Regions from separate parts of the Homo sapiens genome. Here all the other regions are reported to be linked to region 6. Evidence: microRNA targets listed by miRTarBase, many of them from high-throughput screens and not tested one by one. Region 6 holds a microRNA gene; each other region holds the end of a gene's coding sequence.
What was found. The annotated mature microRNA hsa-miR-6731-5p reads UGGGAGAGCAGGGUAUUGUGGA and lies in region 6 at 2,838-2,859, opposite strand. An mRNA with a match to its seed (bases 2 to 7 or 8) in the 3' UTR can be bound and repressed. Matches are read on the target gene's strand: a 7mer-m8 pairs with bases 2 to 8, a 7mer-A1 pairs with bases 2 to 7 and ends in A, and an 8mer does both.

Region 1: the mRNA of SDK2 is a reported target of hsa-miR-6731-5p. Seed matches in the 3' UTR shown: 7mer-A1 at 1,461-1,467, 7mer-m8 at 3,173-3,179 and 7mer-A1 at 3,659-3,665.
Region 2: the mRNA of GHITM is a reported target of hsa-miR-6731-5p. Seed matches in the 3' UTR shown: 8mer at 4,360-4,367.
Region 3: miRTarBase lists ELFN2 as a target of hsa-miR-6731-5p. Seed matches in the 3' UTR shown: 7mer-m8 at 2,401-2,407.
Region 4: the mRNA of CHST11 is a reported target of hsa-miR-6731-5p. Seed matches in the 3' UTR shown: 7mer-m8 at 2,425-2,431 and 7mer-A1 at 3,661-3,667.
Region 5: miRTarBase lists HOXB6 as a target of hsa-miR-6731-5p. Seed matches in the 3' UTR shown: 8mer at 981-988.

Annotation. Positions count from the first base shown.
Region 1 is chr17:73,333,827-73,338,963 of GRCh38, reverse strand. It overlaps SDK2 (sidekick cell adhesion molecule 2), which reads left to right. Exons shown (of 45, transcript NM_001144952.2): 45 at 24-4,580. The coding sequence ends at 377. Among named protein-coding and RNA genes, the nearest start is that of CDC42EP4, 24 kb to the right of the region's middle. RefSeq lists an enhancer at 1,333-2,232.
Region 2 is chr10:84,151,757-84,156,904 of GRCh38, reverse strand. GHITM (growth hormone inducible transmembrane protein) reads right to left here. Exons shown (of 9, transcript NM_014394.3): 9 at 3,337-4,641. The coding sequence ends at 4,557. Among named protein-coding and RNA genes, the nearest start is that of GHITM, 15 kb to the right of the region's middle. RefSeq lists an enhancer at 1,080-1,593.
Region 3 is chr22:37,368,633-37,373,780 of GRCh38, reverse strand. It overlaps ELFN2 (extracellular leucine rich repeat and fibronectin type III domain containing 2), which reads left to right. Exons shown (of 3, transcript NM_052906.5): 3 at 1-5,148. The coding sequence ends at 709. Among named protein-coding and RNA genes, the nearest start is that of ELFN2, 56 kb to the left of the region's middle. RefSeq lists an enhancer at 4,777-5,148.
Region 4 is chr12:104,757,315-104,762,462 of GRCh38, forward strand. CHST11 (carbohydrate sulfotransferase 11) reads left to right here. Exons shown (of 3, transcript NM_018413.6): 3 at 1-4,700. The coding sequence ends at 489. Among named protein-coding and RNA genes, the nearest start is that of MIR3922, 170 kb to the left of the region's middle.
Region 5 is chr17:48,591,962-48,596,961 of GRCh38, reverse strand. HOXB6 (homeobox B6) reads left to right here. Exons shown (of 4, transcript NM_018952.5): 4 at 290-1,211. The coding sequence ends at 549. HOXB5 (homeobox B5) reads left to right here and starts at 3,183. Exons shown (of 2, transcript NM_002147.4): 1 at 3,183-3,841; 2 at 4,506-5,000. The coding sequence starts at 3,280. The coding sequence ends at 4,753. The region is part of intron 1 of HOXB-AS3 (HOXB cluster antisense RNA 3); the gene reads right to left. RefSeq lists enhancers at 299-468, 526-1,197, 2,240-2,745, 2,975-3,044, 2,746-3,253 and a silencer at 3,510-3,559.
Region 6 is chr1:24,916,553-24,921,700 of GRCh38, forward strand. MIR6731 (microRNA 6731) reads right to left here and starts at 2,864; the gene lies at 2,793-2,864. It overlaps RUNX3 (RUNX family transcription factor 3), which reads right to left. Exons shown (of 5, transcript NM_004350.3): 3 at 2,688-2,792.

The sequences.
Region 1 (5,137 bases), not on the chromosome of region 6:
ACCCTGATTCTCTGTCCTCCCAGGGAAGTGACAGCGAGTACGAGGTCGACTCAAACCACCAGAAGGCCCACTCCTTTGTCAACCACTACATCAGTGACCCCACATACTACAACTCGTGGCGGCGACAGCAGAAGGGCATCTCGAGGGCACAGGCCTACAGCTACACGGAGAGCGACTCGGGTGAGCCAGACCACACCACCGTCACCAACAGCACCAGCACCCAGCAGGGCAGCCTCTTTCGGCCCAAGGCCAGTCGGACTCCAACGCCCCAGAACCCCCCTAACCCCCCAAGTCAGCAGAGCACCCTCTACCGTCCCCCCAGCAGCCTGGCCCCAGGCTCCCGGGCTCCCATAGCAGGATTTTCATCATTTGTTTGACATCAGAAGAGGAAAAAGCAGAAAGAGAAATGGCACCAAACTCCTCCTTCACCCCTCCTCTCACTGCCTGCCAGAAAACAAAAACACCAAGAAACCAAGTCAACTTTTCACCTCCTGAGTTTATTTTTCCAGAGATTCCAGGGCCAGCAAAGCCGGCGTTCAGAAGGAGGGAGAAAACCGTGAGAGGATGTGTGTGGCCAGCAGCTCTTCAGCTTTGAGATGGTGGGGTTCACTGCTCCCTTGGGAATTACACGGAGCTGGGGAAGTGGCTGTGTCACTGCTATGGACACGGAGTGGGGCGGGCATCTGGAGAGAGAGAGGGAGCGGAGGCTAAGGACTGGAGGCCGCCAGGCAGGCGTGGCCGAGGGAAGAAAAAGCTTCTGGATGTCCAGCCAGCTGCCCCCTTCCAGCCCCTCCAGGACCCCTGGACCCACTGCCGCTGCTCTCTGCAAAAAGAATGGGCATCCCGGAGGCCACGCCTATCTTCTCTCTCTGCTCCTCCTTCCCTCCATGCACCATCACTGTGGCTGGCAGGCATCGGACAGCCTCATCCAGACCCCCTGCCCTGTCTTGGCAACCTCTACTGCCCATCTCCCCTGCTCAACTTCTCCACCAAGCATTTGGTTTATTTAGAAAAAGGAAGAAAAACAAAAAACAAAAAACTAAAGGGTGAGAATTTGCTTAGCGCCTTCCTTGTTCCTGCATATTTTTTAAAATATTGAATCCAAGGAAGAGAGCCCAAGGGTAGGGGAGAAACCCCCCACAACTGACCCCTGCCTCCCTGTGCTGGAATTGACTTTCCTGAGCATGGACAAGGAAAGGTGAAGTCTGGGGAGCAGAGGTGTAAATAAGGCGACTGGCCTTGGCACTGTGGGATGATTAGGTTTAACGCATTGTGGGCAAGATAAGAATGACACTTTGACTGTTCTCTTTCTTCCAATCCAGGTTCCATCCGTCCTCTCTTTAAAGGGGTAGTCAGCTTCCCAAGGCTGGGGAGTGGGGCACAGCTGAGGGATCTCCCTCTGGGCAGACACGTCACTCTCCACTGGATAGATCCTCACCACACACACACACACACACACATCTCCCATGCACTTACAAGGAACAGGGTCTAGGGATCCTCTCCAGAACAAACTCATCTGGGCCCTCCTAGCCAGACAGCACACTCACTTTCAGATCTGTGTCCCTCTCACTGCCACCCGGCAGCCTCCTAAGCACAGAGGCACAGGAGCCCAGAGGGGTGGCCCAAGTCCCTGGTCCAGAGGCTGGAATACCCAGAGTTTGCTCAGTCAGCCTAGCACCCAGTTTACAGGCAAAAAGGCAAAGACACCCTAACCCCCAGTAACAGCTTCCAGGCTGGGCTCCGCCTGGCCAGGGCGGGGAGGGGAAGGGGCAGGTCAGGAAGCTCAGTCCAAAGTGGACCCAGCATTTGAATTGCACGCCCAGCAGGGGCAGGTCAGATGGGACCAAGTGACAAGAATAGCTGATGGGAGGGAATGCTTTTACACACACACACACACACACACACACACATACACATACACAATCTGCTCCAAGGAGTGTTCTGCAAAAAGCCACATCCAGTGGCCAGGATCTTCCCGTCCACTTGGTACTTACGGATGCCAGGGTTTAGGGAGAAGCCTTTCTATCTAACTCCATACATTGTCCAAGGCCCTCTGTGCCCTCAGCCAGCCCTGTAAGGCCAGCCCAACACCTGCCCCACCGCTGAGATGGGTGGCAGATGGCCCACAGGGGCCTGTCTGATTCAGCGTGAGCCCCTTCGTGGAGCAGGGCTCCCTCTGTGCACTGTGTACAGGCGCTGCTGGCCCTGCCCAAGAGATGATGCTCTGTTGGGGTGGGTGAGCAGAGTTCAAGGAAGCCCAAGTAGGAGATTTGGGAAACATGCCAAGGTAAGAGAGAGCCTGGACCACTCTCCTACAGCCCCAAGTCAGTCACTGTGCTAATGGTGACCGGGAAGGGAAGTCAGGGTCTGGGGCCCAAAGAACGGGCACACCCAGCCATGAGTTTTTCCTGAAGCACTTGACCCCTGGGAAATGTGAACGGGGAGATGCTGGAAGATGGCTCAGCAGACAGGCCAGCCCAGCTCCAGTGTCCAAAAAGCGGTTTCTCCAATAAGGAGGCCTGGGAAGGGAAGCACAATCTTCCCCAAAGGAGAACCAAGGGCTGAGGTTCTGCCCCTCCAGGAAGTAAGGTGCTCTCGGGGCCTCCTTGGACTTGTCTGGGGGCTGCAGTGGAGTCAGCTGGACACCTGCTCCACCCCTGCCACCTCCGCCCCCACCCTCTGCAGCATCTGGCATCTCCATGGCAGCACATCTGCAGCTGCCGGCCTGTGATCGTGCCGCACAGCTTTCTTTTCTTTCCTCTCATCTTTTTTTTTTTTTTTTTTTTAAATAACTTCATCCCTTTCCCTCTCTGCTGAGCATTTAACCATTTAAGGAAGTTCCCAGTTTGCATTAGGGAATTATTTAAGCCCAGCCCAGTGAGGGATTATTTGGGAGGAAGCAGGAGTGAGTAAAAACATTGTGTCTGTGTATATATTGCACATGAGGTCAATTTTCCTTTGCCTTTAATGAATCACCTGGTGCACTAAGATATTCCACCCCCCCACTCCCCACACGCTCATTCGCACCCATGCTGACACCTACGTGTACATGCGGGATGGTGCCCATGCACGCCTGTGCTTACACACATGCACACACAAATATGCACAGAACACACATCTGTATGTGTGTTAGCAAAGAGACTCCTGAACTCCCTCTGATGGCTGAAGCCATCTCTCCCCTGTGAGGCACAGGTGGCCTGGGTTGCTTGCACTTGGGGCGTGGCTGGGATCTATTGTCTGAGAGGGTGAGGACACCACGCAAATTTAGACAAGCCCATGAGATCAGGCTGGGCCCATGGTGAAAGTCCCACACTTAGTCAATACCCACTCATCTGGAATATTGTCTCCACAGCCCCAGCCACAGCTGGAAGCCCAGGCCTGCAGCTGTGGAACTCTAGATTTTTTCAGGACACGTCTCTTTGCCCTTGTTTACATATCTACTGGCACAGCCGAGGCTCCCAACCGTCCTCCCAGAAACCTGGCCACATTAGAAAGGGGTGGTGGGCCCTGCCCTTTGTAGAAAGAGTGGGACCCTTTCTGGCCTGTGATTTTCCGTGCCAGTGATGCCAGGGCCCCTGCCTGTGGGACTCCACCCAAAGCAGGTTCACACCAGGACACACCTGGCACCTTTGGCATTGCCTCCTTGTGCCCTAAGCAATCTCCCAGTGTTGCACCCAGGAGCCCATGCTGGGCACACCAGGGCTTTCCCCTTCCTGGCTGCGCCTCCAGAGTTGACGTCAGCTCCACACCCACACTGCCAAGACAAACCAAAAAGATGCTCTGGGCTCCAGAACCACCATCCTCCTAGGGCTCCAGAGAGTTTGCAAACCCAGGCTGCCTCCCCTTCTGTCCATCCCTCACCCCCCGGCCCCCAAAACTCCTACCCCCAAACCTGGCACTGCCGTGATTTAGAGGAAACAAGGACACAGCGGGGGCTGCCCCCACCTGGTGCACGCTGCCTCAAGGCCTTCTGTTGCTGCCCACGCCTCCCTGGGCAGTGCTTCTAAAGGTGCCAGAGCCTCACCACAGTGCCACTCTGGCTGGGCAGGGGCTTCCCTCAGCTTCCCAGAGTGCACATCTGAAGGTGCCTACCCTGGGTGAGGGGCTGGTGGGCAGGAAGGTAAAGGGGAGACCATCTGAGCAGCCGCCACCCGCTCCCCAGTGCCTCTGTATGGCCCTATCCAGGGACACCCATGGGCATGCGCACATGGCAATCCTGACCACCACCTGAGCACAGGTGCCCCCTCGGGACCACCCCCCTTCTCTTTGTTTCCATCAGAATAACCAAAAGCATTTAAACGTGTTACCTTTCTCCATCCATCTAGACTCCAGAAACAAAAATCAACACAAATCTTTATTTTTTGATTTAAAAGATATAACAAAAAATTATGGGGAGAGTATTCATTATGGCAGGTGTCTGTCTGTAAGAAAAAAATATATATCTCTATGTCATATAGCGTGTTAGCAGGTTTATTTTTTAAATGAAAGGTAAGAAAGAAATTGATTTGAAATATATACCACAAGAAGTCCCGTGTCCTGTCAAACTGTCAGTATTTTATAAATAAACTTTTTTTTTTGGAGATTTGAAGCAACATTCTTTTCCTTCCTGTTACATGAATGGGGTCACCTGTCCCAGTATCATACCCAAGCAGTTCATTCCCCAGACAGCAATTTTTAGCCATGCTGTGCTTTTGCAGAGAAGAGTCAAGGGTCTGACTTATCTGCTCTCTTAATGCATAAGTGAGTGCCTTCCAGTGAAATGCACTATTTTATTTATTTTAAACTTTTAGAATAAGAACCTACTTGATGCAATGTGCAAATTATAGTGAATAATAATAATAGCAATAGCTAATATGTCTATGGCATTCACTCTGTGCCAGGCACAGTTCTAATCACTTTACGTTTATTAACTCATGGAATCTTTGCGACAGTCCCAAGGAGGAAACCTGGGACAGGGAGACTTTAAGTGGCTTGCCCTCGGGGAGTGGTGGAGCCAGGATTTGTACTAAAGCCTTCTGGCTCTCAAAACATAATGCTGCCTCTCTGATATTTTAAGGCAAGCTCCTTGTCCATTTTTATTTTAATTTCTACAGAGCTAGCACCCCACTTCCCAGTGATCTTAATGCCATGAGAAATG
Region 2 (5,148 bases), not on the chromosome of region 6:
GGCCTCCCCTCATGCTAACTGCGCAGCAGCCCATAAGATGCGGGCCATAATGGTCGTTATGATTCTCCTCCCCCACCAGTCTTTTATTTAGGTTCATTTTTGCTTGTGGCAAAAAATACTCTCTTCATGGTTCTCAGATGTTAATGAATTGAATGTTCACCGTCCATCTTCCTGAATTGCTTCACAAAAGAATCTTACTTTAAAGGTGGAAAGTCCTCAAGGTCATAGCTTTCTAATCTATTCCTGAAAAGTCATTTCCATTTTGTGCTAGTTAAAAATGGAATGCATTTAGGATTTCATCTTATTGATGAAATTGACCTTAAAAAATGGTCAATTTTGATTTGTAGCTCGGAGTGAACTGGGCAATACAAAAAAGGACTATTTTGTACCGTAAGAAATAGATGTGAGGAAGGCACGATGATTTCCAGTATCCTTCACTGAGGTCAATTTTTTTTTCACAGAAAACTAAAATGTTCCTGTTCTATTTCCTTTAATTTACTCAGAATACTGATTCCCAAGATTTTAAAAGTGACTTACACTTTAATAGAATCTCAACCTATTTAATTTGTATAGTGCTTTTGTGATTCTCAAGCAAAATTCTACTTCTTCAACTTTTACTTTGGATTCATGGAATACATGTGCAGGTTGTTACTTGTGTATACTGCGTGATGCTGAGGTTTGGAGTACCAATGATCCCATCACCCAGATACCGAGCACAGTGTCCAATAGGTTTTCAACCCTTGCCCCACTCCTTCCTCTAGGAATCCCAGGTATCTATTATTACCATCTTTATGTCCATGAGTAGCCAATGTTTAGTTCCCATTTGTGAGAACATGGGGCATTTGTTTTTTTGTTCCTGGGTTAATTTGTTGTTTGTAACAGGATGATGGCCTCCAGCTAACTCTATAAGGACAAGCTTGCTTTCTTTTATATGGCTGTGTCCTACACGATTTTAGATCTATCATCTATCCTCCCGGCATAATTGGTTAGGGAGTTTGTCTCATTATTCTTCCCAGCCATATGACCTTGTGCAAAGATCAAACTTTGGGCAAAGAGTTCAATTCAAACATCAGCTATTACTAGTGTAGCTGGGCCACCCTACCCCACTGGAATTATATGTCTTGGGTATCACTCAGTTTTAGTACCTTTAACCTGGACACGTTACCCAGATACAATTTCAAGGTAAACATGCCTGCCTGTCTTCCTAGTTTTTTTTTTTTTTTTTTGCCCAGCAGGAGTGCAGTGGCACAATCGCAGCTTCGAAATGCTAGACTTAAGCAATCCTCCTGAGTAGCTGGGACTACAGGCATGCGCCACTGCACCCTGCTGATTTTTAAATTTTTGGTAGAGATGGGTTTTTTTGTTGTGCAGAGTGGTCTTGAACTCCTGGGCTCAAGCAATCCTCCTGCCTCAGCCTCCCGAAGTGTTGGGATTACAGGCATGAGCCACCACGCCTGCAGGTTTTAACATGTTAAGCAAAGCACACACCCGCAGCAAGTGGGAAATCCAGCTTCAAGAGAATTTCCATTTCTTACCATCTTTTTCCACTTTGTCCATCTCTCCCTGCAGCCCTCCCCCATCAAGCATCCATTGTATGAAATGCCCATACTACCTTTTTCTGTGTGCTTTACCTACTATGCTTACTCTTGAAAATTTCCTCCTGGGCCATCTTAGAAACTTATTATTCAGTCTGCATTTCCATTTTGCTTACCTTTCTGTGACACTCATCCAATGGCCTATGGCCGTGTTTACACGGATTTGATATGCTTTAGAAGGCAATTACTTTTATTCATCATTGTCTCCCCTGGGCCCAGCTAGCATGGCACCTGTTACATAAAAAATTCATGTTTTCTGACTGTTCAGTAGATGCCATTTTAAGCAACAACTCAAAGGGCCTTTTTTCTCGGGATTATTTTAAAACATGTTTCATTTATCCTCTAGTATTTCAGACGATGTCAGAAAATGAAAAATGGACATTTACTTTTTTACCTAAAGCCTATCACTTTGCAGGTCATTACTCTTCGCTGTGAATGAGGAAAAAAAAAAACAAAAACTCTGTGGTATGTTAAGAGCCAAGAAACTAGTGATTTTTTTCTATTACCATTTACAACTGGTATGTTTTACAAACGATCACATTTTATATATCAGCTTACCTTTTATATGTTATTTATTTATTTATCTTTTTGAGACGGAGTCTTGCTCTGTTGCCAGGCTGGAGTGCAGTGGCGCGATCTTGGCTCACAGCAACCTCCGCCTCCTTGTCTCAAGCGATTCTCCCGCCTCAGCCTCTCAAGTACCTGGGACTACAGATGCACACCACCATGCCCAGCTAATTTTTGTATTTTTAGTAGAGACAGGGTTTCACCATGTTGGCCAGGATGGTCTCCATCTCTTGACCTCATGATCTGCCTGCCTCGGCCTCCCAAAGTGCTGGGATTACAGGCGTGAGCCACCGCACCCGGCCACATTTTATATATTATTTTGCATAGCCTTCATTGTCTTAGCAAAGTCAGAAGAAGTCCAATAACATAATGTCATTAAATTAACAACAACGACAACAACAACAACAAAACAACCCAGGATGGGGGCAGTGGCTCAAGCTAGTAATGCCGACACTTAGGAAGGCCAAGGTGAGTGGATTGTTTGAATCCAATTTAAGACCAAACTGAACCCCTCTATTTAAAAAAAAAGTAAAACAGTAAAAAAATCCTTGGTTTTCTAGATAAACTGCCTGATACCATCACTGAAATGATATCATTTTGTGTGTGATATTAATTTAAAAAAGACATAAACTTTGGGTTCTAAAAGGTGACTAAGGAAAACAGGCACTTTAAGATCACACTGATATGGGTATCAGGATGGGGAGAAGAAAAATAGAAAATTGGCATTTACATTTTTACTAATAAAAAAAAGCATCAATAGCTAAGACTTATGTAATGCTTACTAAGTGCCTGCACGTTTAACCATAAACCTATAAGACAGGTTCCAATATATTCATTTTACAGGAGAGGAAACTGGGCACACAGAGGTTAAGTAATTTGCCCAAGGTCACATAAGAAATAAGAGTTGAGATTCAAATAGAGGTAGTCTAGCTACAAGTATCATGTACTTATCACACTGCACTATACTATACTGGCAAGAAACTAAGTTGCTTTCTTGAAGAAATCCCTATTCAAATGGCATGCATATGATTCACTTGGAAAAATTAGACTAATCAACATCTGGCTGAAACCTTTGTTTCAGAAATAAGCCTCCTATGTACTTTGAGATGATTAACAGTATTTCTGCATTACTGTAATAAACATTTGTCAAAAAGAGCAATCACCTCAGTCATCATACAGACTTCTTTCCCTTCATTAAAGACTTCTAAATATAACTCTTCTGTATCAAAGAACTTACAAATGTCTCAAGAAAGTAATGGTGTAGCAGTGTAAGAGAAGTAAAAGTCTGCTAGGGGAAACTAATGAAGCATTTTCCTCATTACACTTTTGGGTTGATATATTTCATTAAGACAGAACTAGTTCTGTTTTGCTTTGCTTTTTAGTGCTTAGTCTGAGAGGCAATGCGAGAAACCAAAAGTCTTAGGAGAAAAACTGCTTTCATAATTTCCAGTGTAAGCCACAAAGAAGCTTTTCTATAAAGGCTTGAAAGCTTGAAGAGGTGACAAGAGCAAGCTGTATTCAATTAGACAGTTCAATAAATATGCAAAAATAAAAAAACACTTAGCAATCATGAGTATACTGTTTGTATTCTGGAAAAAGCAACATATTTCATGCTTTGAATATTTTCTCTTGAGAATAGTTTTAAAGTTATTTCCTTTTGTAACATTCAAAAGTAAAACACACATATATAATTCCATCAAGGATTCTCTGTATGATTAACATTCTGTACAAGTCAAACATGACCACATCTATATTGGAAAGAGAGCACTGAGAAGCAACAGCAGGAGAATGCATCACCTGTGCCTGTTTCAGGATGAACAGTTTTGTTAAGTTCAGCAGATGAATGTAACAATGACCACTTGTTTCCAAATACCCAGATGTTTCTTACTGGCTCCTCACTAATCAATAACACAAGTGCTAAGTTCTAAGTATTTAAAAAAACAAAAGACTGCAGGTGACTCCTTCTCTCTGGTCCCTTTACCAAAGCTCCAAATCACTTATGACATTAATTACAATATTCTGCACTCCAAAAAAATATGCAAACACAGGTTTGCTAAATTTTAGTTACTCAGTGAACCTACTAAATTTTAAAGTAGAAAAAAGACTTACATTCTCATGACACAAACTTTAGTTTTCACATTCACCAAAACATTTTAAAATCACTCAAACATGAGAATTGAAAATGTGTGTGCTTATTTGGGAGAGGATTACTGCATTTATTCTCCAGAAAAAAAGGCAGACCTGAGGCATCACATTACCGGAACATTTAAATATGATGACATGTTTCTTATCTTCTAAACTTCAACGAAAGCTGCTTGTACAAACTATTTAATGCATATCTGCCCCATTAAACAAGATATTTGATGTAGCAGAGAAGCCAGAAGCTGAGTCACTTCATTTCTTTCTGTTGCCTCCAGTTGCCAGCATAGTTGCAACTCGCATAAATATATTTAATGTATCCATGTAGATACTCAGCATCCTAGAAAAGAAAATTATGCCCATTATATATGATGCAATTCTAATAGTGATGTTGAATTCTTAATATAGAAAAGAAGAAAAATACTATTTGTCTTAGTGATATAAAATGGAAATTAAAAATAAGATGTTTAACTGCCAACTAATGAAGTACTAGACTAGAAAATAGTTAAGGTCTTCCTTTTGGCAGACTCATCTTTTAAATGTTAAAGAGCAGTTTAAAAAAATCATTATTTTATTCTCTGACACTCTGCATATATCAACTTGCAAAGAAAACTAGGTGGCAGACAATGAAATAATCAAAACAAGACCAAAGAAACACCTTTATAAAAACCTGTTAGACACAAGTCTAGCATTTTTTAATATAAAAGACCCACTTCACCCCTCTAAAGAAAACTTCTACAAATCTGTAAGCTTTACAGTACAGCAACTTTTTCTTCCCCCTAAACCATTACATTAAGTTTTATTTTTAGATAAAATCAAATTACTTTAAAAAAATGTGACAGACACA
Region 3 (5,148 bases), not on the chromosome of region 6:
TGCCGCCTCCTCAGCCACTGGCCCCGGGGCCCTGGAGCGGCCCAGCTTCCTTTCGCCTCCCTACAAGGAGAGCTCCCACCACCCACTACAGCGCCAGCTGAGCGCCGACGCGGCCGTGACCCGCAAGACCTGCAGCGTGTCGTCCAGTGGTTCCATCAAGAGCGCCAAGGTCTTTAGCCTGGACGTGCCCGACCATCCGGCCGCCACAGGGCTGGCTAAGGGCGACTCCAAGTACATCGAGAAGGGCAGCCCCCTCAACAGCCCGCTGGACCGGCTCCCGCTGGTGCCGGCGGGCAGCGGCGGGGGCAGCGGCGGGGGCGGGGGCATCCACCACCTGGAGGTGAAGCCGGCCTACCACTGCAGCGAGCACCGGCACAGCTTTCCCGCCCTGTACTACGAGGAGGGTGCCGACAGCCTGAGCCAGCGCGTGTCCTTCCTCAAGCCGCTGACCCGCTCCAAGCGTGACTCCACCTACTCGCAGCTCTCCCCCAGACACTACTACTCAGGGTACTCCTCCAGCCCCGAGTACTCATCCGAGAGCACGCACAAGATCTGGGAGCGCTTCCGGCCCTACAAGAAGCACCACCGGGAGGAGGTGTACATGGCCGCCGGTCACGCCCTGCGCAAGAAGGTCCAGTTCGCCAAGGACGAGGATCTGCATGACATCCTTGATTACTGGAAGGGGGTCTCCGCCCAGCAGAAGCTGTGACCCCCCCCTTCCTCCCTGGTGAGGTCGGAGCCAGAGGGCTGGGGGCCTTTTGGGGGAAGGGTCCAGGCGGCCAGGGCGGGGAGCAGACTCGGGGGCCAAGGCCCAGGAGAGGACGCACATGCAGACCCGCACGCACGCACGCACACACACACCTGACCACCACCCGACTGTGAACAAACCAACATCCGACAATAACGGACAGGAAAACAGAGACACATTTTCCTTAAAGTTTACAAACTGATACCGAAACCAGTCGTCTTTACTGTGCTGCCCAGGGACTCTGCTGGGGTGTGCAGGGCCGGGGGGCTGGCGGGGGGAGGAAGGAAGCCAAGAGAGGGTGTGGGGTCTGGGGGGTCTGGGGCTAGAAACAGGTGTGGGGGTCAAGAAAGCTGGAGTAGAGAGGGACTGAAGCCCCTCTAGGGCAGGGAGAGGGTCCCTTCCCAAGCTGGGAGTCAAGTCACCTGCAGATTTAGCATTAGACATCGGGCAATGTCTCCTTCCACTTTAGAGAGGGGGGGAAACTGAGGCCCAGAGAAGGGAGTTGACAACCCCAGGGTCACACAGCAGCTTAGCCTCAAGTCCCCCAACTTCCCAGCCCAGTGCTGTCCCGGAACCCCCTGCAGCTCTCTTGTGGACCCCTGCCCGCCCTGTGCCCACCCCACATCCCTTTCCGAAGCTGTGGTCCCTTGGGGCTGAGGGACTTGGGAATCAGGCAGGTGCTTTTTCTTCCTAGAAAGCCACATGGCAGTGCCCCCAGAGTGTGCAGCTGTGATTCAGAATCCTGGGGGGCTTTTGACCCCTATGCCGGCACCCGGGAGAAGGGAGAGGGTCCTGTTGACGGGAAAGGAGCCGAGGCAGGGCGACATTCCACCAGCCCACTTCAAGTGTCTTCCACGTGGCCTGGGAAGAGTGGGGCGTGTGGCGGGCAGGCCAGCTCCCAGGACGTCTCAGGTGCAGGCTCCCGGCCCCAGCTTCTCTGGTCCTCCGAGACCCCTGCCCACCGCAGAAGGGCAGCGGTGCACTGTGATGCCTGGAGGGCTGCAGGGAGGAGCTGTCATGGGGGACTTCCTGCCTGTCCCCATGGCCTGTGTCCCCACCTGCCCGACCCCATCGTGGGATCTCGGCTCCTATCTCAGCCGCCCACCCGGGGAAGGAGGGCTTTCTCACCCATCCCCTCTGGGCTGCTCATCCAGGCCTGGCCCCCTGGCCAGAGGGGCTCCCATGTTTCCGTGGCAATGGCCACTTCCCTCTTTCTGACCCCCCCACCCAACATCAAACAAAGCACAAACAGTGAGGCCCCCACCCGAGAGAGGGTTGAGGAGCAGGCTGGGTTCGTGGCGCCCCAGCCCCTCCCAGCCAGCCTCTGTCACCATGGTAACCCTGTGCCTGGCAGTTGGTGCCCAGAGTGACCGTTGGGCTCTGGGGTTCTCTGTCCATGTAGGCGGTGGCAGAGGGTGGTGAGGGAGGGCCAGCCTGGCAGCAGCTCCTGGGGCCAGCTCTTTTGGGAGGCAAATCTGCGGTCCTGAGACTGGGGTCTTGACCAGTCAGGATGCTGATGGGCCGGAGTCCATCATCCTTCACCTCTGGGTGGGAGCTGGCCCAGCGGGGTGTGGGGACGCCTCTACTAGCAGCTTTGCCCGCCTAGCAACATGTCGCTTGGCTGCCACCCACCTCAGCTTGGGGGGCCCCGGCTCTCCCCACGCCCCTGCCAGAGACCCCCAGTCTAGGGCCTGTGGCCCACATGGGTTTCCTGAGATTTGGGGAGTGTGACTGAGGGGCGAGGGTAGGCACTGGAATGGGTCCAAGACCGGCACTGTTGGTGGGCAGGGGCTCTGACCAGGAAAGCTAGTGCCATCCCCTGGGGACCCCAACGACCTTCCTGCTGGGGGCAGGGGGTGAGGGAGGACAGCAGAGGGCTAGGAGGCTCGGGCTCAGCTGAGTACCTCTCTCACACCAACTTTGGGGTTAACGAAGCCCAGGGCTCACTTTGAGGGTGACATTTGCAAAGAAAAGACTGTTCTCCTGGGGCGAGGAGGGGAGGGGGCGGCATGGATACGCGGAGCAGACCTCCTCCCCCGGCCCCCAAAACCTGCCCCCCAACCCCTCCTCACACCCCCTTGGCACAACTGAGAAAAGCAAGCAGGCAGAGAAGCCAGGGGTGTGAGGAAGCAGACTCCCTGTTATATTTGCATGACGATTTTACTGTATTTTTCTGAGCAAACATCTGTCGTGTATGTGCCAGTTTGTCCAGACTCCCCCGCCCCCTCTCTGATGCCCTGCTTTCCCACATTCTGTCTGTTGTGATCTGACGAGCAGCTCTTGAAACCCAGGGAGGGGTCAGCTCTGCAAAAACAGACCCAAAACAGGTGCCACCAAGACACAGCCCTGCCCCACACCCACCTCCTGTGTTTCTGAGCATTGGGCCCATGTGCCACCTCCCTTCCTCCCTCCCTCTCTCCACTGCCACCTCCCTTGTCCCCAGTTCCTTCCCCTCCTCCATGCCAGGGAGGGCAGCCCCAGGGAAGCCTCCTCAAGGGCTCTTGTCCCGGTGGAAGGGACTGTCTGTCCGTCCCGCTTGTTCCCGTTTTGTAGATGAGGAAGTCAGGGCTCCCAGACGGGCCTGGTGAATTGGCTGGCCAGCTGGGGTGGAGGATCAGTCACACTGCTGAGTGTAGGAGGCCAGGAGCTTGGGGCTTCGTGGGGGGCTTCAGGGAGAGGGTGGGGGCTTTGAGAAAGGAACCCGTGGGAAGAAGGAGCACGCCTGGGCTGGGCCCCAGGGAGGGTTCCCAGCAGCAGGAGTTAGGGGCCTGCGCTTGCCATTTCCCCATCCTTTCTGCGTGAAGATATTTAGGAAACCTCAGACTCTCTGACTGCAGGGACAGGGGCCCTTCCAAAGAGCAGGACTCTGATGATCCAGGAGGGGAACTGGCCTTGAAGACCCAGTTCATGTGGTTCTTTGTGAGGCAGAGCGGGGTCTAAGACTCGGGTCTCTGGCCTCCCAGCCAGGCCAGAGCCCCAACTGCTCAGCTTGGGGAGAGCCCACCCGGAGGCTGGCCTGCATCTGTGTCCCACGTCCTGCTCAGGATGAGTTTTTCCCAGGCGGGAGGGAAGTATTCACAAAATGTTGCCATCCAAGGTCTGGGTTTGTGATGATGATGAGCATGGTGGAGCTGGGCTGTGGTCTGGGGCAGGCCAGCAGGGCAGACACCAGGAAAAGAGGGCAGGGGGGGCCACAGGGAGGGAGGGGAGATGGAGGCCCGGTGGAGCGAGGGATGTGTGGGTGCCACGCCCTGGACCTCTGCGGGGAGGCCTCCTGCCTTGGGCCGGAACAAGGTCACACCTGGGCTTGCCTGCCTCTGTTGGAGAATCTCCTCTGAAGCTGTTTCTGGGAAGTAGCACAATGGGTCTGCTCCTTCCTGGGAGGGCACAGCAGGTGCAGCTAACCCTCTGTTGGAGCTTATGGCCTTCCAGTAGCAAAACACAGAGGTCTGGCATGAAGGCAAGAAAGCCTGGTTGGTGGGGAAACCTCGTCACGGGTCCCGGCCTTGCTTTTCCCCGCGGCAGGAAGAGTCTCTCTCTGCCCACCAAAGAATCCCTCACCTGGGCTCCCCTCCTGAGGCAGTGCAGGAGGCCTGTGGGAGCAGCCTGTGTCCAGGCTGGGGAGCCCGTGTCTGGGTAGGTCTGGGAAAAGGGCTGTCAGGGGAGCGAGGAGGGTGGGAGTAAAGAGACCTGCTTGGGAAGGCCAGGCCTGGATCGTCCCCGGGAGGCAGCTGGGGCAGCAGCAGTGGGGAGTATCAGGCTGGCCGAGAGTCACCCATGTTCTCAACTGGAAGTTGGTCGCCTGCCCCACTCCCTCCTGGAAATGTAACAGCGGGGTGAACAGAAGTGCAGAGACGGAAAGGAGAGGAAAGGAGACCTAGAGCTGACAAACTCGGTTGTGACAGTGCTGAGGCCGGGATGGCATCAGGAATTAAGGACACCAGTGACAGGTCCTAGCTTATAAGGGGCCTAAGTGCAGGGAAGGGATAAGACACAATGCTCCCTAGTGACTGGCGCCTTGCAGAAAATTAAAATAGGGTGATGGGGGAGGGGCAAGGCTGGTCAGGGAGCATCCTGTGTGGGATGGGGGGACAGGGAGCCAAGCTGTGAATGACAAGAGGAGCCAGAAGGGTGGGTGGGTGGGTGGGTGTGAAGACGAGACTAGAGGGAGTGGGGTTGCAGTGGCTGCCTGTCCCCCAAGCACCGCCTCTGTCCCCTACTACCCTGCCCCTGCCCATTCCTGGCCCAGCAGAGCCCCCTTTCCATGAGTGTGGATGGGCGGGGCAAGCCGTCGGGGAGCCTGGGGAAGCTCAGCCCTGAGGGGCTTACTTTGCCCGTGGAAGCCAGTGTGAAGGTTAGGGCAGCCTTGCCTGGCTGGCCCCATTGCCACCTCTCCTGTC
Region 4 (5,148 bases), not on the chromosome of region 6:
AGGCTAGTGTCCGCCTACCGCAACAAGTTCACCCAGAAGTACAACATCTCCTTCCACAAGCGGTACGGCACCAAGATCATCAAACGCCAGCGGAAGAACGCCACCCAGGAGGCCCTGCGCAAAGGGGACGATGTCAAATTCGAGGAGTTTGTGGCCTATCTCATCGACCCACACACCCAGCGGGAGGAGCCTTTCAACGAACACTGGCAAACCGTCTACTCACTCTGCCATCCCTGCCACATCCACTATGACCTCGTGGGCAAGTACGAGACACTGGAAGAGGATTCTAATTACGTCCTGCAGCTGGCAGGAGTGGGCAGCTACCTGAAGTTCCCCACCTATGCAAAGTCTACGAGAACTACTGATGAAATGACCACAGAATTCTTCCAGAACATCAGCTCAGAGCACCAAACGCAGCTGTACGAAGTCTACAAACTCGATTTTTTAATGTTCAATTACTCAGTGCCAAGCTACCTGAAATTGGAATAAAGGGGGTGGGGAGAGGGAGAGAATCATGCTTTTTAATTTAAGATTTTTATTTGTCAAAAGAATTATATGGATATTGGGTTATTTTGTAAATTAATATTTCTTTGGGGATGATGCTGCGAGCAGCATAGTGAGAATTATTTAAAATCCTTCGTAGGGAAGGACAGCTGTCTTTGCAGGGGAAATAGGATGGGTCGTCCTTGTCTGTAGAAGTGAATACTGCAACACTGTCTCAAAGGTTTCTTGTGTTCTGGTGAATTCCATGAATTGTGCATTCCATAAATTCTAATTAATATTATTTATAGTTATTTAAACATGGTCTCATTATTTCTTTTTGTGGCAGCAAAATTCTAACATCTTTCCAGAAGAAATCTATGATTCCTGCTTTGCTTGCTACAGCTCATTTGGGGGCATGAATGTTCTCCTTACTAACCTCTCATGGAGTCATGTGATAACAGCCATTGTCATGTGTATGGATGCCACCATTCTTGAATTTCTGCTAGAAATAAGTAGGTTGCTATTGCACTTAGAGTCATCTTTGCAAGGGACTCATTCCAAACCAATTCCAATCGACCTGAAAGTCCCTTGCACTAAAGAAATGTGATTTTTTTTTAACCCAAGGAGAAAGTTGGTTGTAACAATTTTTCACCAGAATTAGCAATCTGATAGAATAGGCTTTTTTAACAGGAATTTTAAACTGGCGGTGCCAGTTGCAGTGAAGGTGAAGTGGCTATTGCTTTATATTCGACAAATATTTATTGAGCATCTACTATATACTAGGCCCTGAAGATAGAGCGTTGAACAAACCCAATAGTCTTGGCCCTCAAAAAGCTTTATGTGACATAGAGCATCCAGCTCGACAATTAGCAAACCCCTGATATTATTCATGGACTTGACATGAGGTTTGGACTATTCATGAGCAACAGCAGAAGGTCCATGACCCCTACAAATTTACATTTTTCTATGGCCCATATTTGAAAACCTCACATTCGGAGCAGGCCACTTTATATTCGTGAGTGATCCCAAGCTCACTGACCAACAGAAAAGATGCTAAAAAAATGTGTCCTATCATGTGCCTGCTCCAACTGATGGGTAATGTCTGCCTTTAAGCCCCAGAATGGATTCTCCAGGCACAGTGTGGAAGAGTGCTGTGGTTGATTAGCAATGTCTGCCTTGGGTGAGGAAAGGGGAACACTCCTCAAGTGCCTCCTACTGTCATCTCCATTCAGCCTAGCACCACATCCCCATGTAGAAGTGTTGTCTTCTACTGCTTGCCACGTACAAGTGTGAAATGCCAAGGTGAGACTCGTACACTTGGGGATTTGCAATGGTTTTTACCCCTCATGAAGGTCAGAGGTGGACTATTTGTACACATACACACATGCACACCCTCTCACGTCCTCCAGAGGCTGAAAGACTATCAGCATCTTGGTAACTGCCATGCATGAGCAGCAAGGACAGCCTTCCATAATCCATGCCCCATTTCCTCTGGAAGCCTGGAAACTTTTCATTTCCTGTTCCTTGCTAATTAACATCTAAACATGCTTCTCATTTCCAGCCATTGCTGATGCTTCTCAGTTGAAGTTTGAGCCACATCCCTCTTACAGCTAGTGAATGAGTTGGTAGCAGCTACTGTATATAATAATAATAATAGTTTTAATAATAGGGGAGGGTGGGATGGGGTGTGGGTAAGTTTTGCCTTTTGTTTTGTTTTTGATGCCGTATATAGTGAAGGGGTGAGGATATTCTAAACAAACAAAAATTGAATAATTTATTCACAGAAACTATTAAGATTGTATTGTAAAGCTCACAGCAAGCTCAGTGGGCAGCAGCTGCAACATCTCACCGGGGAAATTATTTTATTTAACGTGAGTGAGATGTGGGCCGGAGAAGGTAGCTGAAGCTATTTATAAAACGTTGTGTACCTTCTTCCGAGCTCTCTCCCCTTTGTGAAGGGCGCAGCAACTATACCCTTGATGGATGGAGATTTACGCAATGTGTTTTACTGGGTAGAGTGACAGACCTTGGCTGTCCCTGGAATTGAGAATCTGGACCTTATTTCCAGGCAGAGAACACTGTCCTCAGAAATGGGACTTCTGATAATGAAACAGGTTGTCCAACATTTTCTAATACGCATTCTACAGAACACAGGTTCCAGGAGGCATCAGGTTGGTGTGATGCAGACTAAGGGTTTTGTGGTCAAATATCCTTAAGAAACAAAGTTAAGTCAGTTTCCTTTCTGCAAGGACTTTTCAGCCTTCAATGTGTGCTGTGCATGGTGAATCCCCAAAAATAATCCTTGAGTCTGTAGCATTTCCTGAACTTACATGACCAGGATACTCTATTTTGCAGATCACCCCACAGAGCTAGGGTTCCACCGAGTATACTTTGCTTAGGTTGACTTAGCATATCTGAGGTCTTCAAGGATAAAAACTGCCACCCCAACACCCTTCCATTAAAAAAAAAATACAAAATAGCACCACAGTCTCCATCTGGTTTATAGCAACAGAGGTACTTTATTTAATGAAGCAATGGTTCTAATCCTGGATACTGCCACGGACTACAATTCTATCCCTCCCAGAGGGAGTGGAGGAAGTCTTGGGTGGTGTGGACAGAAGGAAGAGAGGAGAGGGTGAGTGGGGTATAGGGCCCAGGGTGGCTCCCTACTCCTCAGGCTCAAAAGGATGCTCAGTGGGAACAGATGATCTCTTGATGAGTGCTTCTTCAGTTTCATAGTTTGGAATCGTTCACTGTGTGCTTTTTGGGGGGTTTTCAATGGAAATTCACGTTGCTTTGCATTTCTGTGTCCGTCTTTGGTCAGTTGTGCAAGCCTGCTCACTGTCATGTGAAGATGGCCTTTCATCTGGCTTCTCTCTCTTAAGTGAGAAAGATTGTCCTTCAGGGGACATGACATCAATAGGTTTCTGGAATGAGGGACTCTTTCTCCCCGTGTTTTGCTTTGTGTTCACATTTTCTTTTCTAATGGCATTGAAACTTTAAAAAAAATGGATTCAACTGTTTTTGCAGAATGTAGAAAGTATTCTGTGTCCTTGGTTAAAGAAATCCACTTGTGAAGTGTGCCTGGAAAATGAAAGTTTGTGTTTTTTAAAGAGGAATATTTGAAACTGCTTTCTATGCATGCTTAGCTGGAGAAAAGTACAGGCAGGCGTCCCATCTCCCAGCCACTTCTCAAAGGTGCTGCTGTGTTTTAAAGACCAGGTACAGCCAGGGCAGTATTTGCAAGGACATTCCTGCTTACTTTATCCCTTTGGTTGGAAAGCTCTAGATGATTCCCGCAGCTCCTCCAGACCCCGCCTCCCTGCCCTCCCCAGCTGGTCTGGGAAGAGGTGGTCTGCTGACCTGTGGTATCTCAGAGGGGACGTTCCTCCTCCTCCCTGTGCACCAGGTGGGCTGCACCCTCCTGCCTATTCAGGATGTGGATGCCACAGGAGAGCAGCAGGCAGTGGAAACTTCAGTTGCACTGGTTCTCCTGGTGGCAAAGGCATGAAGCACAGGGGTCGATTAATCCAGGCTACTAGAAAGCTCCAGAGCAAAGTGTGCGGGTCCCACAAATGCTTGGCTGGTGGGGTCTGGATCAGTGCTGAGATAGAGTTGGCAGAAGAAGCAGAGGCACTCTGCTTGCTTTCCTAGCCAGTCCTCCCCTACACACACACACACACACACACACACACACACACACAATCTCAGCTGCGCCATTCTGTGCAATCCCAGTGACCAAATCCCTTCCTTGCCCACCTCTATGTCAGCAGGACTGACCACATCACTCCCCCGAGTTCCCACCACCAGCATTTCCTCCAACCTTTTTCCATCACAACCAGTTAGAACCCTACAGGCAACAAGGCCTTCTAGAATCCGCTTAACCCTTGGCTGATAACAGGCAAATTTCAGTCTGCTACACTTTGTTAGGTCCAGAAGGAGCTGCCCATACTACTTTCTTATGAGCATGCTCAGTATGGCATATGGACATGTAATGTCACATCTTTGTGGAGTGTGATTTTCTTTTTTCACATATTTGTATGCAGTAGAGAGCCTGTTGTAGAAAACGCTCCCTGTATCTTGCTGTACTGTTAAAGAAAGCTGAATTCCACATTGCCAACAAAAGCGTGAAAATGTTCATGAACCTTCCTCCAGGAAAAGCCATTCAAGCCTGATTATTTTTCTAAGTAACTTCAATTAAATTGAAGAAAAAAGAAGCTGCTTTCTGTGTATGGTTTGCTCATGGCTCATTAACAAAAGACTGTAGGGGTGGGGTGGGCCGTGGACCTTAGCATGCGGGGGGCCCTGCTCATGTGTATCAAAGGATGGAGATGCAGGCTTCGTTGGAAGACTCAGCCCTGGTAAAAACCGCCATAGATCCAAATTCTTTCTGTTCATCGGGTGAATGGAAGCTTTTCTTCTTTCCATTTTTTCTATAAAGTCTTTGTAGACTAATGCATTAGAAGGTGCACTGTGATCACACAGTTCCACCACTCGTGTGAAAAGGCATGAAGGCTGTCAGTAAATGGCTTTGGTGGCAGAGCCAGTATTCAAGCCCAGGTTGATGTGCCTTCAGAACTCCATGTTTTTGGCACTGAATGACATGCCTCTCTAAATGGCCATCCATGGTGCCACTGCTAGGAAGTTGCAAGCCTGCACTTCAAG
Region 5 (5,000 bases), not on the chromosome of region 6:
CAAGATGCAACTAGGAAGAGACACACCTGACCAGCCCCTCCCCCCAGGCTCAGGTGGGAGTTCAAACTGCTCCTCCCCTCCCCCATCTAGAGTCTAGACAGACGGCACAGGCCTAGGAGACTAGGAGGGAATCTGGAGGGGGCGCTGGAGGAGTGCGAAACGGGGGAAGGGAGCCGGCAGAATAGAGGGCATCCCGGTACTGGCTGGAGTCTGTGTTCGAGGGTCGACTAGGGGAGGGGGTCCTGGGCCCGGTGACCGCAGGCCTCAGCATCTCCACTCTGCGTAACAGGTTCCTCCTTTGGGCCCAGCGGCCGGCGAGGCCGCCAGACATACACACGTTACCAGACGCTGGAGCTGGAGAAGGAGTTTCACTACAATCGCTACCTGACGCGGCGGCGGCGCATCGAGATCGCGCACGCCCTGTGCCTGACGGAGAGGCAGATCAAGATATGGTTCCAGAACCGACGCATGAAGTGGAAAAAGGAGAGCAAACTGCTCAGCGCGTCTCAGCTCAGTGCCGAGGAGGAGGAAGAAAAACAGGCCGAGTGAAGGTGCTGGAAAGGGAGGGAGGACGCGAGGGGAAAGGCCTGTGGGGAGCCGAGGGCGTCAGAGAGACCCGGGAAGGAAGGCTCTCGGGTGGGGGAGCCAGGAGACCTGCTCTCCGGCGCAGACAGGCGGGGCCCAGCGCTCTCCTGGACGCCCCCGCCCGCACAGCTCCCGGCGGGTGCTCTGAGGCCTCACTACTCGAGCCCACCCAGCATCCCGCGCGCCCTTCCTTCCCGAGGAACTCGCCTCAGCCTGATCAGGCTTCCTGGTGAGAACTGAGGAGCGGACTCACTTGATGTTTCCTGGAAGCAGAGCAAAATGCTCTTGTCCCTGTCGCGTCTCATTTTGTCCATGTCCCCCGTGCACGGTTCAATGGTAGATTCGCTGTCCCCTCAGCGGGGGCCTTGAAGACTCCCTGATCCCAGACCTGTCGTCTCTCCCACCCCCTCCCCAAAGCCACTGGAAGGAGCACATACTACCTAGAAGTAAGAAGAGGAGCCTCAGAAGAAAACAAAGTTCTATTTTATTAATTTTCTATGTGTTGTGTTTGTAGTCTTGTCTTAGCTCTGGACGTGAAATACTTCGATGATGATGATGATGATGATGATGATAATAATAATAATAATAACAACAACAACAACAATAATAAAGATGTGAAAACTCGACGCTCGGTCACCTCCAATCCTCCCCTGCCATTTTTTCCTCTCTCCTCAACCCCCAGCCTCTCCATCTTTCCTGAGCCAGAATTCTTCAGCAAAGGCGAGAGCCCTGGCCCGCCGAAGCGAGCCCTGTTCGACTGGGAAGTTACAGCTGAGATAAAGGCTGGAGCGATCAGTCCTGCCCAGGCCCCAGCGCTGCGTTTCCCTGGTGCTGAGGCTCACAGCCGCTTCTCCCCGTGCAGACTTGGGGGATGGAGAGGTGCTGTGTCCCTCTCATTCTCTAGCCTTTCCTCGTGTATACACAGCACTAAGGGAGCCACTGAGGCCCCTAAAGCTCTCTGGCGGAGACGGAGCCATAGTCTGGGGGCCTCTGCAGCGCTTTTCTGTCCTCACCTTCGCAGCGACCCCTGGTCTTTGGCCCGTCCACATGGCCAGGTTTTTTCGCCAGCCTTGGCCCTCCGCTCCTGGCCTGTGGCTCTGGAGACTGAAAAATGGGGCCACTGGGTATCTCTCACCCTGCAGCTGAAGGCTCCAGGTGCCCCTTCCCACCTCAAGTAGCAGATCAGCCTCAAGTAGGAGATCAGCCTCAAGTAGGGGAATGTAAAGCCACCAGCCAGGCACAGGCCGAAGGCCACAACTTTCCCTTGCTCCTTGGAGACCCCAGGGCAGGAGGCCAGGTGATGGGGCTTTTAGTGTCATCCTCTCAACCCAGAATGGCTCATTCTCTCTCTGCTTGCACCGGCACCCAGAAGGCAAGCTGCGGTCACTGTTTTCCTTTATTCCTCCGCCCTCTCGCTTCCTTTCTTATTTTTAAAGAAAATAGTCCCCTCCTAATAGGAGACCAGCTGCGGCGGTCTCTGGCCGCCCAGCGTGCTCAGCAAAGCATGCGGGTCCTTGGAACCCCTTTTCCGGGAAGGCGGCTGCCACCAGGCAAATTCTCAAACTGCCTAGCTGCGAGTGAGGGACCTGTAGTGGGGCCTCCGAATGCAATAGCCGAGGAGGAGGGGAAGGGATCCCGCTTTACAAACTCTCAGACACATGTTACTACTCAAACTAAGCAGCAGACGCGGTGGCCGCTGCAGTCTTTTCGGCAACTAGGCCGCTTAGCCCCAGCTGTGCTCGGTTTCTGGGGTCCCTGTCCTGCTCTGTCACTCCCCACGCCTGGGCTAAGGACCACCAAGGAGGTCCGGAAGGGGATTTCGAACTTCCAAGTGGCCCAGGAGAAGTGAACGCTTCTCCTTCTTTTTCAAGCCTCCCGCCCAGCCCTGCCGGCTCGGCCTGGGCGCTGTGGACCGGTAACAGCAGTTCCACCAGGATGCAGGCCGGACTAAGCTCCTGGGGAAAACCCGTTGCAATAATTGTTTTTCACACACAACTTCCAACCCTTCCCCCATTTCCGCCTCCAATTCGGAGACTTGCAAAGCCCAAGAAAGGGAAAAGCAACTCTATCTTTGATCTTCTCATCCAAAGTTAAAATAATAACGACAATGATGATGTAGGGAGAAAGAACCAAATAGAGAGGCTAACCCCACCCACAAGAAAGTGGGTAAAAAGCCCAACCCCTGCTCTAAAAGGCTCAACCCTGTGGCTGAGCCTTGGCCGGGTTTCTTTCTCTCCCGGCGACTGCAGGGAGCCTGCAGGGAGCCAGCAGGGAGGCAGCCGCCCGCCGCCATGGCGGTCTCACGCCCGCGCTCCCGTCGGTCGCCGGGAGGTGGCGCGCTCTGCTCAGAGGCCAAAGCCAACCTTCTCTCTGTTTCTCCCCCTTCTCCTTTTTTCCCCCTCTCTCGGAGGCTCGCATTGAATCGGCCCTAACGATTCTCGGATCGTCATTATTTGTAACCATAGAGCATGAATTACCTCTTGAGGTCATCAGCGAGAATTTACGACTGGTCAACAAAAGCACGTGATTCCCTAACGCCCCCCACCCCCCTTCCAACCCCCCCCCCATATTTGGCCGCATACATAGCAAAACGAAGTACAGTGCATCGCTATAATTCATTAATACATCATAAATCGTGAAGCACAGGGTTATAACGACCACGATCCACAAATCAAGCCCTCCAAAATCACCCAAATGAGCTCGTACTTTGTAAACTCCTTCTCGGGGCGTTATCCAAATGGCCCGGACTATCAGTTGCTAAATTATGGCAGTGGCAGCTCTCTGAGCGGCTCTTACAGGGATCCCGCTGCCATGCACACCGGCTCTTACGGCTACAATTACAATGGGATGGACCTCAGCGTCAACCGCTCCTCGGCCTCCTCCAGCCACTTTGGGGCGGTGGGCGAGAGCTCGCGCGCCTTCCCCGCGCCCGCCCAGGAGCCCCGCTTCAGGCAAGCGGCTTCGAGCTGCTCCCTGTCCTCGCCCGAGTCCCTGCCCTGCACCAACGGCGACAGCCACGGCGCCAAGCCCTCTGCTTCGTCCCCCTCCGACCAGGCGACCTCAGCCAGCTCCAGCGCCAATTTCACCGAAATAGACGAGGCCAGCGCGTCCTCGGAGCCTGAGGAAGCGGCAAGCCAGCTAAGCAGCCCCAGCCTAGCTCGGGCGCAGCCAGAGCCCATGGCCACCTCCACAGCCGCGCCCGAGGGGCAGACTCCGCAAATATTCCCCTGGATGAGGAAGCTTCACATCAGCCATGGTAATTCTCTCTCTCTTTTTTGTCTTCTCGGCTTTCCTTCTCTGCGTTTTGGGGTGGGATCGGGGGGACAAGGAGAGCTTGGCTTTACCCTAAATATAGATTCATTTTTCTAAGGGGGAGAAGTATCTAAGAGGGGCCTCATAGCTTCGTAGACAGAGCCAAAAAGGGTCTCTCTGTTAAGAGGGGGGTATTTTTAATAATTTGTTTCCAGCTTCGGCTTAGGTTTTTATTAGCGCAGCTGAACCAGCTTTAGGATAAAGGATGGGGTTCATATAATGTGGGGAAGGGTCCTGCTTACCCCTGAAATTTTGAGACTGTCGCTAGCAAAGAAGGGGTGAACAGTAAAAGGAGCTTTCCGGGGCAAAAGTGCAACCGCTCTCCTCCCTCCCGGGGCGAGCGGCCGCCTGAGCCCAGCCAAGGGTGAGGCACTAGGAGCGAGCAAGAGACAAAGCCGGGCGCACTGGCTGCCTGCAGAAGTGGGGGATGCAGTAGAAAGGGGTGCAGAAATCGAGCTTGAATGTGGGCATCTGGAGTAGAGAGGATTGGAGCTGTGGTGAGCTGGGTGCCGGGACGCCTGGGTCCTGCTCCCCCGCCCCCTCCCACCCAGTGCCCCCTCCCTTAACCGGAATAATGTTGCCTTGCGGCTTTCCTCTATCTGCTCCAGATATGACCGGGCCGGACGGGAAAAGGGCCCGGACCGCGTATACCCGCTACCAGACCCTGGAGCTGGAAAAGGAGTTCCACTTCAACCGCTACCTGACCCGGCGACGGCGCATCGAGATCGCCCACGCACTCTGCCTGTCCGAGCGCCAGATCAAGATCTGGTTCCAGAACCGGCGCATGAAGTGGAAGAAGGACAACAAATTGAAAAGTATGAGCCTGGCTACAGCTGGCAGCGCCTTCCAGCCCTGAGCCCGCCCAGAGGAGCCCAGCGGCCCAAGAGCCCGTGCCACCCCCAGCCCTGGCCCCTCCAATCCTCCCCGCTCTGCCGCCGCCCGCTGGGGACCGGTTCCCACAAGCCTGCCTCGCCTTGTGTTACGATATTTCGTTTGGTCTTAGGTCTTCCTGTGGCTCCCTCTCTCCTGGACTGGTTATCTTGTTATTATTGTTAATAATAATTATTATTATTATTTTCCTTCCATGCTCCCAACTCCCTTCT
Region 6 (5,148 bases):
GCTGAGCTGGTCCCTTCACTCTTACAGATGGGGACGCTGAGGACCCGAAAGGCCAAGGATTTGTCCAGGGCCAAAGACAAAGGAGTGGGGCTGCAACCCAGGGTATGGGGGGGGACCTGATCTCAGGGCCAGGATATGCCAGGGACAGGAACAGGCAGGTCCTAAGGATGGGGGACCTAGTAGACTGCCCCCCGACTCCATCTCTGCTCTGTTCTGTAAATAAAACCACTGATCCAGCCGCTGCCGGGGCCCAGAGAGGGAGGTCACCTGTCTCAGGTGGTGCAGCAAGCCTGGCTTCTGACGCCGTGGGTCTCCAGGCCCAGCCTCTGTCCCTCCCTCTTGTTGCCTCGTCCTGAGCCACGCATTTACCTTCCAGCTCACCCCAGAAGGGGCCATCTCAGGTCTGGGAGACCCAGGCAGGGAAGAGCAGGCAGGGGATTCTGCTGGAATCTCCCACAGGCAGGGCTGAGTCTCCATGCTCATCCAGGGGTCCCAGCAGGGCAGAGTGGGCGGCTCTGGGGTGGGCTGGGCTGAGCATGGAGGGCTCTCAGAGGGGCCAACCTTGCCCGGTCCCTTGGATCTTCCCACCAAGCGTCAAGACCCCGTCCCGTGCCTCCCTCTTTCTGGAGTGGCTCCCCTCTTTCTGGAGTGGCTTCTGAGTGCCGCATCCCCACCCAGAGCCCAACTGAGGCTCCTGTCCATGCTGACCCTGCCCCTGGAGACATAGGGCAGGGCTGCCACCTCCTTCAATGGAGACTTGATACCTGCACCTCTATTACCAAGGCAGCCACCCAGCTGCTGCCCATGAGAGAGCTCACCGTTGACTAATGGTGGTGGTGGGAGTGCAGGAAGGGGGCTGGGTACTGAGGACGACAAAACGCTGCGGACCCAGTGACTCATGGGACCCCTCTGTGCTACGGCCACGTGCTGTCCACATGTCGCCCCTGATCTCCAGGTCCGCAGGGTGGGTGGCATCATCACACTTCATGGAGGAGGGAGCTGAGGCCCAGAGAGGTCAGTGACTTGCCCTAGGTCACACTGCAGATAACAGCCCTGGCTAAAGTGACGGATCCCTTGCTAACCCCCACCGCTAAGTGCTTTCTATAGATTAAGCCACTGTTTCCTCGCAATAGCATCATGAGGTAGCTGCTTGTGCGAATATCATTTTTCAGTTCAGGAAACTGAGGCACGGAGATGACTAGCCCAAGGACCCACAGCCAGGAAGGCTGGCTTGGAAACTGCTCTCTACACCATGGTGGTCTATGGCTCATGAGGGCTTCCCAGCCATCACCACCTTGAGACTCCTGGAGTCACTGATCCAGTTCTCAGATGACAAAACTGAGGCCACAAAGAAGACATGACTTGCCTAGGGTCATGAAGCCCAAGGCCAAGGGCATGGGCTGGTCTATGTCTGATCTCAGCAGGAGGGAACCAGCAGGAGTGTGGCCAGGGCAAGTGCTGGCTGGGAGCTGACGGTGCAGGCCTGAGGATGCGTGCCGGGGCTCAGGGCTGGCAGAGGTGACCCTGAGAGCCCTGGAGGGAAACTCTTCCAGGGCTGCTGGACTCAGCTCCAAGCCTTTCCCAAGTGGCCAGATGCTGGGATGGGCCCAGGAATTGGATGATGGGGTGTCAGGCCCAGCTGACTCCCAAGAAGGGAGGGGCCAGCCCAGGGCTAGGCCTCCTGCCCCAGGCCTCCTGCCCCAGGCCTGCTCAGCCTAGAATCTTGCCTCTGGGAAGACTGAAGCCTGGGGCGCCTTCCTGCTCCTTGCACAGCATTAGGTCCTATTCAGGTACCCAACTCCCTCAGGCCTGGATTCTCTCCTCACTGGAACTTGGGTGACCCCTCTGGCTCTGCTGTCATCAAGATCCCATTCAATAGTGACTGCTAAAAGGTCTTCTAAACTACAAAGGGTCACATTTCTGAGAAAGAGAGGGGTGGGCCAACCTTCAGTGCACCAAGCTGAAAATGCCTTGGGGAGGTGGGATGGAGCTCAGGAAGCTGGCTGGCTCTATTTCATTCATTCATTCATTCATTCAGTCAGTCAGTCAGTCAGTCATTCATTCATTCTGTGGACACAGAGCCTCAGCCTACCCTCCCACTTCCCCAGCCTTAATCTGACCTTCAGCAAGCAGAGAGAATTAAACACAAACTCGCTTTGATGGACCAGAACTCCCTGCTCATAGGGTCTGGGTGCCCGGACTCTGGGTGACCTGAGCAAGTCACATGCTAAGATTCAAAGACTCAGTTTCCAAGGAAGAGGCCTGGCCTCACAGCCAGACCAGCCCCTGACTTTTGATCACTCCTGCCCTCCATGCATCCCTCAGCCACCCGCAGAGAAGCTGGGGGCAGAGTAAAGCAAGCCTGGCTCAACCTCCACCCAGAAACACACAAGCACCCGACAAATGCCATATCTGAAAGCTTTCTCCATCCTTTTCCTTTCCTTGACTCCCTCAGTAGTCTCCATGGACAGTCATCTCCACTCCCAGCCTCCTCGCTGGCCTCCCACGGTCTCAGGCTAAGCCCAGAGGGTTTAGGGGTTTGCCAGCAGGCACGCAGTGTGTGGGGGCACAGAGCCAAGGACTGCAACCCCCCGAGGAGGGCTCCATCTGTCTGACCTAGCTGCTGTCCTTCCCGCACTGGACCCTCCTCCCCCGCGCAGGGGCTCAGGGGGCTCGGTGGCACTTACGTCTGGGCTCCCGGGGTCCGTCCACGGTCACCTTGATGGCTCGGTGGTAGGTCGCCACTTGGGTGGGGTTGGTGAACACAGTGATGGTCAGGGTGAAACTCTTCCCTGGGGAGAGTGGGGAATAGAGGCAGGTGGTTGGCACCTGGAGCTTCCACAATACCCTGCTCTCCCACCTGTATCTACCCCTGGAAGCCCCTAACTGTCAAGAAGGGGCACTCTGTCCTCTTTGAACATGGGCAGAAGATAGGGCTCTGGGTGAAGTTCAAGCTCTTGGGCTTGGCATTCAAGGCCCCTGGGGGTCTGACGCCAACTTTGTCAACCCCCCGCCCCATGCCGTGACCACCCTGGCTCATGTTCCCCTCTTCTTGGCCTTTCTGCTGTCTCTTCTATTCAGAGACCCACACGATTTTGTGGTGGGGAGCAGGATGGGTATATTCTATTTTCTGAAAGTAATTGGTGATCTTTGTAGAAAAATTCAAGAACATACAAAATATAAATAAAGAAGAAAAGACACCCCCCCCCCACGGTTCCACTAGCTGGAGATAGACACCGTTACCATTTGGTGTTTTCCCTTTCAGCTCTTTTTGTATGGGTTTGTATATTTACACAGTCGCAGTGGTACTAAAATACAGATTTTCATACTGTTTTTTTTTTCATTTAACCTCACATCAGAAGCACTTTCCCACGTCATTAAAACTCCATAAACTTCGTTTTTAATGGCTGCAAAATATTTCAACTCAAGGAAGCCTCCTCATCTTTTATTTATCTACCTCCTTACTCTCGGGTATTTACATCGTTGCTAATTTCTTATTGATGTGTGCAGCTGGAGCTGAAAAAGGACTGATTTGGGAGCTGCAGACATTTCTTCTGTAGACACAACTGTTATTTCCAGAATGTTCTATTTTTAGATAGACATTTGGCTCCAAAGTCTCCATTCAAAATTCCTGAGAGGGGAAAAAACTTTTAAAATACTACTTTTTTTTTTTTTTACCATTTAAAATAAAATGAAAGTGACCTTCTGTTTATAAAAATCTTTGTCTGCATCTCTGCTTATTTCCTTAGAAGAGATTCCAAGAAGCGGTGAGTGATTTCACGGCAGCAGAGGGTTGGGACATATTACGGGCGCGGATCCCTCTTGGAGTGAGATGACTCTCCGGAGAGATTTAGTCGTCACCCTCGCGTGTGAGGCTGCGTCACACCCCAGGGATGTGTCTATCAAGATGGAAGATCTTTTACACGCTCTTGATTTTGTTTGCCTTTTTTTCTATTACTAGTGAGAATGAAACTTTTTATATGATTATTATCCATCATAATCCAACACAAATTACTGCTTCATGTTCTTTTACTTTCCTGTGAAGGTTTTAGTGCCTTTTAAAAATTGCTATATATTAAGCTTGTTAATACTTTCCATGCTGTATTTGTGGCCATCAGTTTCCCCGGGCACAGGCCTGCACATTTTGCCTTCACACGCTGGGTGGTTTTTCATTTTCACTTCTATTTCTCGTTCTTCTATCGTTTTATGTTCAGACGGGTTTCTCCGTGTAGAAAGCAGTTTATGAAGATTTACTTTCGACAGTCTTCTCTCTACTTTCTACAGTGAATTCTCTGATGTGTCTGGGAGTTTGGGGGTCTGGGTAAGAGTCCTCCTCTCACCCTATTCTCTATTACGATCCACAGCCTCATGCTTTATGAGATTGGTGGCCGGGAGCGGGGGAGATTTGCGGATCCCCCAAGCCAGACTTTATCCCCCTATCCCTGCCTCTGGATCCCACGTACAGGCCTGGGAACTCCCTGTGGGTAGGGGCCAATGGTCTCGCACTCTCACCTGTACCCCAGGGCTGGCACAGGATGGTCAAGGAGAGAGGCTGCCCAAGCGCATCCCTCTGGTGTCCCCCTGACACGCCTCCAAAGTGAGCAGGTAGGTTTCAACAGCCCCACGTTGCAGGTGGGAGATGAAGCTCAGGGTGGAGACCAGTATCTCACAGTTCTCTTTGCATGGCCGGGTACTTGTTAGTCAACTGATCAAGTGAAAATTCTAGCCCCAGAGGCAGGAGAATCCGGAACAAAATTAAACCAGCCAGGCTGCCAGGAGCCATGCCACAGGACCCAAGGCCCTCTGAGACACCAGGGGGAATTTAAAGCTCAAGACCCACTGAGTGTCACTCCAGCTGGGAAATGAGGGGCTTCTCTGGAAGCCTTTTCCTAAGCCAGTCGGCTGAGGCAGGGATAGAAATTCTGACTGCACTTGCCCCCGGAGCCCCAGGTCAGAACAGACCTGGTCTCCCACTCTCAGGTCACAGGGGCCACTTTGTATGATTTCTGGAAGCAGAAGTGCAGATGGTCTAGGGAAGTGCCAGGCAGATGCCTCGGGCTCCCTGCCCGACCCCTCCTACTGCCTTTCCTCACTCTGAGGTCATTTCTCTGCTGGACCTCTTTCTCCTCCAACCAGCCCAGCACTCTC